3 separate regions of the Homo sapiens genome follow, and regions 1 and 3 are each linked to region 2. Evidence: fine-mapped expression QTL. A gene starts in region 2. Each other region holds a variant in brackets. All regions are shown on one strand. Distances are between the middles of the regions. Region 1 overlaps ANXA2 (annexin A2). Region 2 holds the start of ANXA2 (annexin A2). Region 3 overlaps ANXA2 (annexin A2).

Region 1 (4,239 bases), 22 kb before region 2:
GGGCACATTAGTTCTCTTCCTAGGCCTAGGTATCTCACCCCTATAGAACAGAGATAATGATAATACTTATTTTACCAGGATGCAGAAAAGACTGGCTGAGTTAACGACTAGAAACACATCTACTGCCTTCATTCAGCTTCTCTGTCACAAGCCTGGCCCCTGCCTGCATTTGAATTTCTGCCTGTGAAATATGGGGCAAAGAAAGATAGAGAACATTTTTGCCATTGGCACACATGGATGAGTAGTCCAGTTACATGACAAACTCTGGCAGCTGCCAAGAGATGGGAGAGAAAGTAGGCATTGCACAGGGTGAAATGAGGCAGGGGAGTTGGGTGCCTCTCCCAAGCCTGGCACAGCTGGGGCACACAGTCTCAACTCGGGGAAAGTGTAGTTTAGCTAAGTGCCTAAGAAGTGGTTTTGGTCCAAAAATCAGATTTCTTCTATTTCCATTCTGCTTTGATCTCACTTCAGCTGAGTTCCTTAGAAAGGATTTAAGGTATCATCGACTTGGTAATCTCACCGGCTGCTTTAATAATCTAGAACCTTGTCTGCCTTCCATGCAGAATTATATTTCTGAAACAAGCTACAAGACCAGCAGGAAAACACAAAGTACACCACTGCTCAAGATTCAAATCAAATCGTCAGTGAAGGAACATGCATAAAATGCAAGCCCTGTATTGTGCTCTGCTACTCCGTCAGCCTCATGGGACAGAAAATTAAAAAATGTGAACAGATGCGAGAGAAACCAACGCAGCCACCCTTAACTCACTTGATATTGGAGAATTTTCTTGGCATTGCTGACACCAGATTAGAATCTGGTTACTGCCATTGTCCCTGGGTGAAACTGGTATTTGGATTTCCTCAGGGAAAAGAGCTAACTGTTTTTTAAAAAAAGAAAGAGCTGAAGAGAGGCAGGTGATGAAAGCTGATGCTTACAATTAGAAAGGCACCAAGGACTCCTTTTCCAGTGTTTGATAGCTACGTGGCTCAGGTCTGGCACCTACATAGATACATAGACAAATATCACTACAAAGAAAATCTGTGCTGGCAGAGTCACAGGGTGGCTGTGACTCAGCACTGGCCTCTTTGTTCCCAGCACTGCTGTAAGATGAGAAGTCAGTCTAAAGTAAACTTGAACACAGAGAGAAAGGCCTCAGCAACTGGGAAGGGTCCGTTCCCTCCCGTTCCCTTCCAGGAGGGTGAGAAGGCCCTGGGCTACGTGAGTCACAGAAGAGCTCACACTCAGACCTGCTCTTGTTGGTTTAGCTCCTCACTTGCAGCCCTCCGTTAGAGGAGAGAGGCTACTTTTCCCAGCCAGTCTGCCTCTTGGCGCCCTCAAGAGAATATATTTCTAATTGTTCTGCTCAGCCAAATGAATATACCTGGCGTGCAGGTGAAACCAAAAATATCCATCCTGGCTTGTTCTGCAGTGGCATGGGATGTTAGTCTTTTGGCCACAGAAATCTTAAGCAGTTCTATTTTAAAAGTATAAGAAAAAAATAAGTGCAAAACTTCGTGCAGTTATGCTTCTATACTTGCGCTTCTGAGAAAGGGGGGAGAAAAATCACCCACTTTTGCATCCCTTCCGGAGAACACAAATACTGCTAAAATCAAAACTGGCAATAATAATAGGGTAATTCATTACCCTCCCCTTCCAGAGAGAGACCAAAGCTGTACCAGTTTATTGGCACTTACACTAACTCTGGGGTTGTGCTGCTGCTAATTACAGTCTATTTTCTGGAGTCTCGATTCATCCTTTTCTAATTTAGCTGACTCTCCTTTCTAGTTATTTGGACCCATATGGTAAACCATTCACAGCTGTGTTGTACACGCCATCGTATATATTTAACCCAAGGCCAATCTAAACCAAGAGACTCCTACAGATTAAGTCTCAGCAACCTCTTGTTAATTAAGCAGTATTACTACTTTTGCATGACTGTACTCAGTTTCTAACCAGACATAAATTAAGGTAAGTCGTTGCATAGTCTACCTCAGGACGGAGCATACATAAAACAATCCTGCATTTGGTTTAGGCAGCACAGGCAAAAAATACTGAGATCCCTTCAAACTAGAAACAAAGCAGACTTATTTTGATTTTAGCAGTATTGTGCTTCTCCCCCCTTCTCATAAGCACAATAAACGAGTATGTAGAGTATGATGAGAACACAGACCAAGAAATAGCTGGTTCTGCCTTCTCAGAGAAAGCTTGTTGATGCTGTGCACTGGCCCAGGCTGAGAGGTAAATGGGAAC[T/G]GCGCAGATGTTTGAGGTGGGGAGGAAGGAGGCTACACGCTCCTCAAAGAACAAAGGCAGAGGCATGCTCTGTAGAGGGCCGTGAACAGAGCCAGAGACGAGGCTAGAAAGATACTCTGTAAAGGCTGAAGCAGGGAGGTCCCTTAGAAGACAGATGCCATAGGCCAGGCGCAGTGGCTCACACCCGTAATCCCAGCACTTTGGGAGGCTGAGGCAGGCGGATCACCTGAGGTCAGGAGCTCAAGACCAGCCTGACCAACATGGAGAAACACCATCTCTACTAAAAATGCAAAAAAAAATTAGCCGGGCATGGTGGCACATGCCTGTAATCCCAGCTACTCGGGAGGCTGAGGTAGGAGAATCGCTTGAACCCGGGAGGCGAGGTTGCAGTGAGCCGACATTGTGCATTGCACTCCAGCCTGGGCAACAAGAGCAAAACTCTGTCTCAAAAAAAAAAAAAGAAGACGACGACGACAGATGCCATAACAGCTCACAGGAGAGGGGTGACAAGAGTTAGGGGAAGGGGTGAATAAGAGCTGCCTCCCAAGCACTGGAAAGTGAGCCAGGACAGGTATTTTTGGTTTTGTCTGCACACCTGGAGGTATATTCATTCAGTTGAGCACAGCAATTAGGAATATATTCTCTCGAGGGTGCCAGGAGGCAGACTGGCTGGGAAAAGTAGCCTCTCTCCTCTAACAGAGGGCTGCAAGTGAGGAGCTTTAGCTCACACCAAGAAGAGCAGGTGTGACTGACAGTTCGTCTGTGAGAACAGCCTTCGTGACTCCTGCAGCCATGCCCTGGCCATGGCAAGCAGTGCCCCCAAACAGGTCTCTGACCAGCTCTACCCTCCTCGCCATCATCCCACTCCAGGCCTGCTCCTGTGCACCATCCGTGTACTCGACAGCAGCTGATTAAGCCTCCTCCAAGGTGGCCTGCTCCCAGCTCTTCTTCCTGAGAGCACACAGACCACAGGGAAATCAATGGAACATTACATGGAGTGGGTAGCGTCCCGGCACACTCACACACACGTGTGTACACACGGCTACCCCCGTCTAGGAGAGAAAGAGGGCCAGTCATCGTCACATGGTCCTCTGGCTTTTGTTTCTATCAATACTTGAGGTTTATACCGTGTCCTTTGATGTCAAGGAAACACCAACTACTTAGTATTGTCTCTTCCCGATGAAGGGTTAGAGGTGGGAGTGGGGCCAAGGTGTGGTGTAAGCTTCTTAATTACACTTAAGGCAAAAGGCATTCTAAAAAAAGAAGGTAAGATCTTAATTAGCTCATTTTTAAGTGGTTTTAGTTATCCAGTATCTAATAATATCAAGGAGAAGGAGGAAGGAACAAAAGGGTTGTTATCCTTTCCAACTAATGACTTCATTTTTGTTTTTAATTAAGTTTACTGCCTTCCACTATGAAAGTAATACAAGTCATCATAGAAAATTTGCAAAATACAGAAATACAGAATATACTGAAAGCCCAAGAAAGGAAAAGGAGCAATTGCCCACAATTCCATATACAGGCATACCTCGGAGATACTACTGGTTCGGTTCCAGACCATCACAATAAAGCAAATATAGCAATAATGCAAGTCACACAATTTGGTTTCCCAATGCATATAAAAGTGTGATTATATTATATTAAGTGTGTAATAGCATTATGTCTAAAAAACACATAACTAAATTTAAAAAATACTTTTATTTCTAAAAAATGCTGGCACAGAGACAAAGTGAATAGCATTGCCACAAATCTTCAATTTGTAAAAACCATAATATCTACACAGTGCAGTAAAGGAAGGACCATGAAGTGACGTACGTCTGTTTCCATTGCTAATGCCTTTTATTTTTTCTTTTTTGATTAAAAGAAATCATAGGCCAGGCCTATGATTTCACACCTGTAATCCCAGCACTTTCGGAGGCCAAGACAGGTGGATCACATGAGGTCAGGAGTGCGAGACGAGCCTGGCCAACATGGTTAAACCCTGTCTC
Region 2 (4,239 bases):
GGTGAGAACAAAGGCTCCAGACAATGCATTAGTGCCAGATTCTAGGCCCAGTGGTGTAGGAAGAGCCTACAGCCCTCAAAATCAATAGCAATTATAGAAGCACATCTACTTTGCCAGGAAAACTACTTAAATCAGAAATTAGCCAGGAAACTAACGGCCATGACTGCGAGCCTAATGTCAATCAATACCATAGTTTAATAGCTCAAAGACACAAGATGCTAAATATTGAGACTCCAGTGCAAGACTGAGCTCCTAATCAAAGTCAGTGAGTCAGCAATATTTCCTGGGCATTTACCACAGGCAGTCTAGTTGGCACTGCGGGAAATTACAAAATCTAAACGGTCTCCAAATCACAAACCTCCAATTGTAAAAATGCACATACATGTCACATCCTTCCACTGCAGATGCAAGGGACATTTTTGGACAAACCCTTGACCTTTAGATAATCGACAGACTTGGAAGAAGGGAAGAAATTACTAAGCAGGACTGTGTTAACACTCCTGGCCCTTGCCCATCAAGGGCACCTCTGCTGCCCCAGTCTTACCAAAAATCTTCCTTAATATTGCCTGAATATTGCTGCTTTACATTCTATAAATTATAGATCTGTTTAGGTGAACGAGGGTTTTTTATTATTATTATGTATTTATTTTTTGAGACTGGGTCTTGCTATGTTGCTCACATTGGCCTTGGACTCAAGAGATCCACTAGCTTGAGCAGCTGGGACTACAGGCCCACGACCACGCCCAGTATCGTTGTTTTTTAAATAACAAGACTCCTCTCGGTTGCTGAGGCTCTTAGGACCACCAACCATTCCTAACTTAATGAATATCGATTCAATCTGCTAGTCTCTAGCTGGATGCAGGTCCGCCGAAATGGGAAGGAGGAAGGAATGCAGCGTAACTGGACCGGCCTGGATGGCTGTTGTAATGCGTCACGGAAGAGCCAGAAGAGCGTCTCTAAGGAGGTGGAAGGTGGAAAAAAGAAAGTGGAACAGGGGCAAAGACATAATTTTCCAATTAAAATAATTTACTCAGTGTCAACCTTAAAGCTAAAAAAAGTTCCAGAAAAATATTTCAGTGATTTAGTCTTCCTACACACACATTGCCCCTCACTACCCTCCACCTCCCCACCACCAATCCCATAATCAGGCAGTGCATGTTAAAAAGGTCTTTCAGGGCTAGCCTGGGAACGTCAGCACCTTCTGCAACACTGTTTCAGTGGGAAAGTGCATTCTGCATTCCAAGTCACCAAGTTCCAGACAGGCACAGTAGCACACACGTGTGAACAGAATCCATCAGTACAGTCTGGGGCCCAGGCCTTTGCACACCAACAACTTAAGGTTCTTGGTAATGGCCCAGCGTGCACCCATGAGGCCACTGCTCTTTTACACACGCACTCAGAACACCCACAGCTTTAAAACGGCAATCTTACTACAAAAATGACACTTTGCATTTGCACAGCACTTTGTTTTTTGTGTACTTTACACATTTATTACCTAATGACTGTGTTTTTTGAAATCTCCAATAACTCTGGGTGGTGGTAAGAATAGGCATCCTTAAGCCACCTTCCCAGATGAGGAAACTTATCTGTGTTCCCCTCCTTCTTCTCAACAGCCGGCTGATGGAACCCAAGCCCTCCACACCAGCAGTGGGGCCAGCTGCACAGAGCGGCCAGAAGGGAGAGGCCCCGGGGCCACGCCCTTCTCTCTACTCTCAGTTCCTGACTCATTGTCACATCATGGCGAGTAACAGGACAACCCTCCCCACAGAATCATGGGGGACACTACCTTCCTGAGGCCAATGTGTTCAACCAAGCGGGAAACTCTCCGGGTAGAGTGAAATCCGAAGTTGCTATGCTACAAGATAACCTAGAGCAAGGGGAATAACTGACGTTTTAATGTCTTCTTTTATGGGGGGCTGAGGGGTGCCTACTCACACTCCCCCCTCTCGTCTTCCCCCGCTACTTCCCTCCTGCTGGTCGGTTCAACTCCACAAGCGCGCGTTTGTTTCGAGTACAGTAACTTAGAGCAGATGGGGGGCACTTTCTAGAGGGCAGTGGAAAGCCCACTTGCTACTGCTGCGCCGGGGACCTGCGGCTCCCTGGGCGGCCACGCCCTGCCTCGGCGGCGCCTGGCGCGTCTGGAATGCGGGGCCTCCCTCCGCCCCTCTCCCCACGCCGCCTCGCCCCGCTCCCGCTAGGGCTTCTTAGAGAAGCCCGACCCCCCACCACCTCTGCCCTGCACCCTCCCGGCCCGAGGGCCGGTGGCCCCTCACCCCTGCCCCAAACACCTTGTCCCTGAGCCCCCTCCCCAAAGACTCTCCAGTGCCGGCCGTCCCTTCAGCCCCCTGCCCCCGACGGCCTCCGGGGCCAGTTGCCGGGGCCTCCCTGCCAGGCCGTACCCTTCTTCCCAGCGTCTCCACACCCCGCTAGCTGGCGGCCCATCGCGGGCGGGCAGGGCGCGCCCCGCTTACCTGGGCCGTGCGCCGAGAGCTGAGAGCGTCCCCAAATGCTGAGCAGAGCCGGCTGGCCTGGGTGGGGCTTTTATACCCGCCACATCCTCCCTAGGCGAGGCGAGGCCCGCCCCGCCCCGCCCCGCCTCCCCCTTACACGGCCCGCTCCCACCCCAAGTCAGGGGTGACTCACCCCGGCCCGCCGGCCCGCAGGGACCGCGCCCTGGAACGCTCCCGAGCCGCGCCACGCGGGAGCGGCCCCAGCGCCCCTGGCCCTGCCCTCCGAGAAAGCCCGGCCGAGGCTGCCCCGAGGCCCACAGGGACCCCGTTTCTTCCTCCTTTCCTCATTTTACTTCTTAAGTGCCACGTCGAGCTCTCAGCCTCGGCTTGGGTTAATAAATTAACAAGACTTTAGTAGTAGACTCTGGGCTTGATTAAGTGTTTTTTTTTTTTTTTTTTTTTTTTTGGCGTTAATGCAATGGAGGAAAGAATTGTTCCAAGAAACATAAATCTGGACTCCCCTGAGCTGGGGCTGTTGGCATCCAGCGCCCCATTACCGTCTGCAAACATGTCAGCTTAACCTCTGGCCGCCAGTTCCCGGGGGGCGCCCGGGGAGGGAGGGAGATTCGCCCTGTGCTGCAAAGCCTGGCCCGCCCCGGCCTCCGAGGGCCAGGAAGCCCCGAGCCTGGGCTGGGAGGCCAAAGCCGGGAGCCAGGATCCCACCTCAGTCCCGCCCAGGGTGGCGCCCCTGTCCCTAGCACGGCTGTGCTCCGCTTCTCTCCGCGCCTGGGGCATCTCTGCGCGGCCTCGTAGCAGGCAGTCCTGAGCGGGGTGGGGCCCATAGCTTTGAACCCGGAGTTTCGTGTGTGTGTGTGTGTGTGTGTGTGTGTGTGTGTGTGTGTGTGTGTGTGTGTTTCGAACCCGGAGTTTCAACAAAGAACTTTCCTCTCCTTCTTTCATGACTGCTGGGGTGTGTGTGTGCGTGTGTGGTGTGTGTGTGTGTGTGTGTGTGTTTCTTGCAGCCGTTTAGCCAACTCCCTTGCTCGGTGTTGCTGTTACTCGCTTTTCTTCCGAGAGAGAGAGAGAGAGAGAGAGAGAGAGAGTTTCTTGCAGCACAGAGAGAGAGAGAGAGAGTGAGATAGAGAGTTTCTTGCAGCCAGTTAGCCAACTCCCTTGCTCGGTTTTGCTGTTTCTCACTTTTCTTCCGTGTGTGTGTGTGTGTGTGTGTGTTTCTTGCAGCCGTTTAGCCAACTCTCTTGCTCGGTTTTGCTGTTTCTCGCTTTTCTTCCGTGTGTGTGTGTGTGTGTGTGTGTGTGTGTGTGTTTCTTGCAGCCGTTTAGCCAACTCCCTTGCTCGGTTTTGCTGCTTCTCGCTTTTCTTCCAAGAGTCACGTTGGCAACGTGCAGGCAGACACCTATTTGTTGTATGTGAGACGACGCAAATACTGTATTCGAACCTCAAACTAACAGGAAAGCGACGCTGAGAATCCCGAGGATCTCTGGCTGCGTTTTTTAAACCCCTCCTTGCACACTACTTCCTGCAGCTCTTTTTCCTGGTTTTGATGATTCTGTGTTTCAATCTCCCATTTATCTTAACATCCATTTTTACTTTCCATTTGAGCGTCAATTCACTCCTGGGAATCAGAGAATGATAGCAAGGCCAACAGACATTCAGTGCTCTGCCCACTCGCATAGAGTGACACAGGCAAAGTCGGCCACAGCTGAGGTCTTTTAACCCGCCCAAAGCTTTCTGTTACCCAGCGCTTTCACGAGGAATTATACGCGATGGG
Region 3 (4,239 bases), 50 kb before region 2:
GTTACAGTACAATAAGTTTTCATAGCTACATTGCATCAATTACCTTTTATTCCTCAAAGAATAAAATCAAAGTTCTTGTTACCAACTCACAGCCTGCCAGGTACCCTTTTCCTTCTCTTTGCAAAGTAAAATTTCTGGGGAGAATAAGTCAAACCTCCAGATGGTTCTCTTTATTCATGAAACAGTTTGGACAGCTTGACTGAAGAGGACAGGCTGAAATCCAGAAGAAAATGGGACCAAAATTCAAGTGCCCTGGCTGTGAGTTTTGGAAAACACTGGACTGCCATTGCTTTGTATAGAGGAAAAACAGTAGACAGTGTTTGAAACAGTTCTCCAAGCGCCTTTCCTATGTTGGCCTGCCCTTTCAACTTTCCCACATACCTGTTGGCCACACCAGTGGCCAGACTGTCCTGGGCACAGTGGGAGCGTAAGTTTCCCCATATTCACCCCATGGCCTTGTCTGCTCCACACCACTGCTCCCTTTGCAGCCTGAAACACACGTATGATTGAGAGGTAACAATGCCTAAATGTTCACTGATCTGAAACACTGCTCCTGACAGTCTCTGCCCAGCCCTATCAATTCTGAGTTCAGTATAATTTGGGGTTAATGAGAAAGGTCCTGCTTCTTAGGCAGTTCCTTGAACTCTGCCCAAGCACACAGAACAGTATATTCTGTGATTTGGGGCATCCATTTTAATATGTATAGGCAGGACACATTTGATAAAATACCTGATTTTTGCATAACCTGCTTTTTAAGGACTATCTCAGGGGCCTTTCACATACGTTATGGGCCACTAGTGACCCAAGAGCCATGCTCGATCCAAATTTCCATCTAAAGTTTGCCAAAGGGCCAAAATAGCAGCCAATCAGCTCACGGATGTATTTGGTTTGGTCAATGCCATGTTGTTACGACTGTTGTTTGAATTGAATTTGAATGCCTCAAGCAAGGCAGGCATTCCCCATTTTCCCCAGATTCCCCACTTCTGTCCAACCTGCCCATTTCATACATTCATTTCCATTACCTACCTAGTCCCTGCAGATGACTGAGTGGGCCCTGCATCAGCCAGGTGCCAAAAATGAGTAGTTGACACACCCTCCACTAAGGAGAAGGGTTAGGAGGAGTAGTCAACTTCCCCTCACTCCCAGCCCTCTACCCTGCTTATGGGGAGCACTTGTATAAAAAGGAATCTGCAGAACCCAGTACCAGCAGCCTGGGGACAGCACCTTCACATTTATGAACACAGATAGATACATATATATACATGCGTATGCAGTCTATCCATGAAAATGTACTGGAAACCAGGCGACTCCAGGGAAGGCCACTGGCTAGTAAGGGAGAGACATAACTTTCCCTGTACAGAAAGAAGTCTCTGAACTTTTTGACATGTGTACCATTGTATCAGCGACCTGTCATTCATTCCCAGACCCTTAAGAACCTGCATGGAGTGCTTTCTCCCAGCTGTAAAACCTCACCTTAGATTTTAGTGTGCAGCTCAAATTGTTCCTTTTCTCTATCATCTTTCTCAATCCTCCCAGTCAAAAGAAATCCCTTCTCCGTGCTTCCCATCGGCTTGTGTTGGATCTCCTTTGCCAGAATGCTGTAGCCTGCCCCACCCTGCCCCACTGCTCTCTCCAGTTTGTGGCTGCCCCTGATGCTTATTTTCACCTAATTAACCTGTAGAAAGATAAGCAGATAAGGGGTCCCTCTGGGACCCTTTTTCTCCCCCATAGGTCCTCTCATGCCCTGGGCATGTACTGCTGCCCAACAGAACTTTCTATCGAAATGTTCCCTGCCTGCGCTGTCCAGATATACTAGCTGCTGACCACATGTGAAAGCTGAGCATTCGAAATGTGGATTGTGTGACTCAGGAACTGATTTTATTTTATTTTATTTCATTTAAATTTAACTTAAATAGCGACACTTGGATAGGGGCAACCATACTGTACAGCTCAGTCCCAGAGCTTTCTTCCTACAGGGACAGCCTCACCAGCTGAACCCCAAGCACGTTTAATTTTCAAACAATTCAGTTGAAAGCAGGGCCACAAAGTACGTGTTTCTAAAGTACAAATTCAGTTTATTCATCTGTTTATGACACAGTACACAGGAGGCAAAGTGTTTCACATCATAGACTT[C/T]ACTTCCAACTCCTTGGAATGTTCATTTCTTTGGCTTACAGGAGAGACTAGACAGGAAGGCCAGGCAATGCTTAGGCAACTAAAATGAGGTTGGGGGTAATGCTAACGTCACCCTCACAGGGATGGCCACGGGGACTGTTATTCGCAAGCTGGTTTTCTAGACCTGTTAGCTGGAAGCATGGTGAGCACCATTTCTGGACGCTCAGGCCGTGTCGGGCTTCAGTCATCTCCACCACACAGGTACAGCAGCGCTTTCTGGTAGTCGCCCTTAGTGTCTTGCTACAATGGCCCAGGAAAGAAAAGAAACGTGGTATCAGAAAAAAGCCCAGACTCCTCAATAACACAGAAGTAGCCTCAACGCACAATGAAGCTTCTCCCATGACAAAGAGAAGACTCTGCAGGAGACCTGCCCTGATACAAAGGCCTGGAAGGCCACACCCAAACCATTGCCAGGGAAGCCTCCAGGAGTGTGGTCGGAGGAGGTGCTGGGGAAGACACTCAAGGCTCCTTAGGACTGTGGGGTGGAGGGAGTGCAAGGTGCTGAGGATTGACATAGGTTAGTGACCAGGGCTGTTCTTACTGCAGCAAGGTCCTACAAACACCCTAACTTTCCTCTCTCGTCCTCGTCTTTCCACAGAAAACAGGGTACTTTCCTAGCTCACTCTCCTATTTCCTGCATTATTAAGGTCAAGTGGAAATAAGCTGGTGAGGTGAGGAACAATTACTAAGAGTCTAACTGGTCCTTTGACTTTAAACATGTGCCCTAATAAACCTGGCTACAAAAAATCCAGCTCTAACTTTATCCTTGCTAACCATGGGCATGCCTTTGGACATCTGAGGAACTTCTAGAAAGGGGAATTGCAAGGGCTGTCTGAAATCTACACAGTGGTACCACTGTGAATGCCATCACTTCCTTACTGCAAATGCGACATCACATCAAAACAGACAGATGCTAAACTGATTGGAGAGATGGGAGTTCTGAATAACTGAAAGTTGTTAGGCCTATCCCAGAGGATTTTTCAAGGAACCAATGCATAATAAAAGTAAAATGTGGCCGGGCGCAGTGGCTCACGCCTGTCATCCCAGCACTTTGGGAGGCCGAGGCGGGCGGATCACGAGGTCAGGAGATCGAGACCATCCTGGCTAACACGGTGAAACCCTGTCTCTACTAAAAATACAAAAAAATTAGCCGGGTGTGGTGGCGGGCGCCTGTAGTCCTAGCTACTTGGGAGGCTGAGGCAGGAAAATGGTGTGAACCCAGAAGTCGGAGGTTGCAGTGAGCCGAGATTGTGGCCACTGCACTCCAGCCTGGGCGAGAGAGCAAGACTCCGTCTCAAAAAAAAAAAAAAAAGTAAAATGTAACTGATCTTCCAAGCCTCTTCGGGATGTCAGCAAGCCTTGCAGGATCATCGTCATGAACACCGATGATCATTGTAGAGTAACAGATGTGAAAAATATAAAACATCTGCCTGATTGTACAAAGTCCAGGACAAATCACAAATGGTGCTTTCAAAATAAATCCCTGATAGTTGATGACTAGCATCTCTTCCCCAGAGAGTCAGAAAACAGAAAATCGCCACTCTGTCATCATTCTGCCAGGCCACCTGCCAGGGCCCGGGGTGCTCTGGACGGCAGGGCAGGCTGACACTGCACCTCGGGCTTACCTGGATATAATAGTACAGGGACTTGCCGTACTTTCTCTTGAATTCAGACCTAATTTTCAACATGTCCACTTCACTGCGGGAGACCATGATTCTGATCAGGACCTTATCTCGCGTCCCCTTGCCCTGAAAATCAAGTTGATATTTGTTACATTCGCTGAGAATGTTATCGTTAAAGAAAGCGTCTACAGGTTGAGCATCCCTGATCTGAAAATCTGAAATCTAAAATGCTCCAAAATCCAAAACTTTTTCAGTGCCGACATGATGCCACAATGAAAAATTCCACATACAGCACTTAACACAAACTGTTTCATGCACAAAATTATCAAAAGCGTTGTATAAAATTACCTTTAGGCTATGTGTGTAAGGTCTATATAAAACATAAATGAATCTCAAGTTTAGACTTGGGTCCCATCCCTAAAATATTTCATCATATATATGCAAA

What was found. PIP is the estimated chance that this variant, and not a neighbour inherited with it, causes the effect.
Region 1: its variant is fine-mapped to the expression of ANXA2 in tibial artery (GTEx, PIP above 0.99).
Region 3: its variant is fine-mapped to the expression of ANXA2 in whole blood (INTERVAL, PIP above 0.99). The same link has a PIP of 0.9 or more in monocytes after LPS.

Annotation. Positions count from the first base shown.
Region 1 is chr15:60,373,683-60,377,921 of GRCh38, forward strand. The region is part of intron 3 of ANXA2 (annexin A2); the gene reads right to left. Among named protein-coding and RNA genes, the nearest start is that of ANXA2, 22 kb to the right of the region's middle. The variant T/G (reference allele first, on the strand shown) is at 2,252.
Region 2 is chr15:60,395,472-60,399,710 of GRCh38, forward strand. It overlaps ANXA2 (annexin A2), which reads right to left and starts at 2,515. Exons shown (of 13, transcript NM_004039.3): 1 at 2,472-2,515. RefSeq lists enhancers at 861-1,452, 1,453-2,044, 1,538-1,587, 1,648-1,697, 1,718-1,907 and silencers at 2,068-2,207, 2,278-2,817, 2,938-3,247.
Region 3 is chr15:60,345,278-60,349,516 of GRCh38, forward strand. It overlaps ANXA2 (annexin A2), which reads right to left. Exons shown (of 13, transcript NM_004039.3): 12 at 3,798-3,920; 13 at 1,874-2,412. The coding sequence ends at 2,353. Among named protein-coding and RNA genes, the nearest start is that of ANXA2, 51 kb to the right of the region's middle. The variant C/T (reference allele first, on the strand shown) is at 2,134.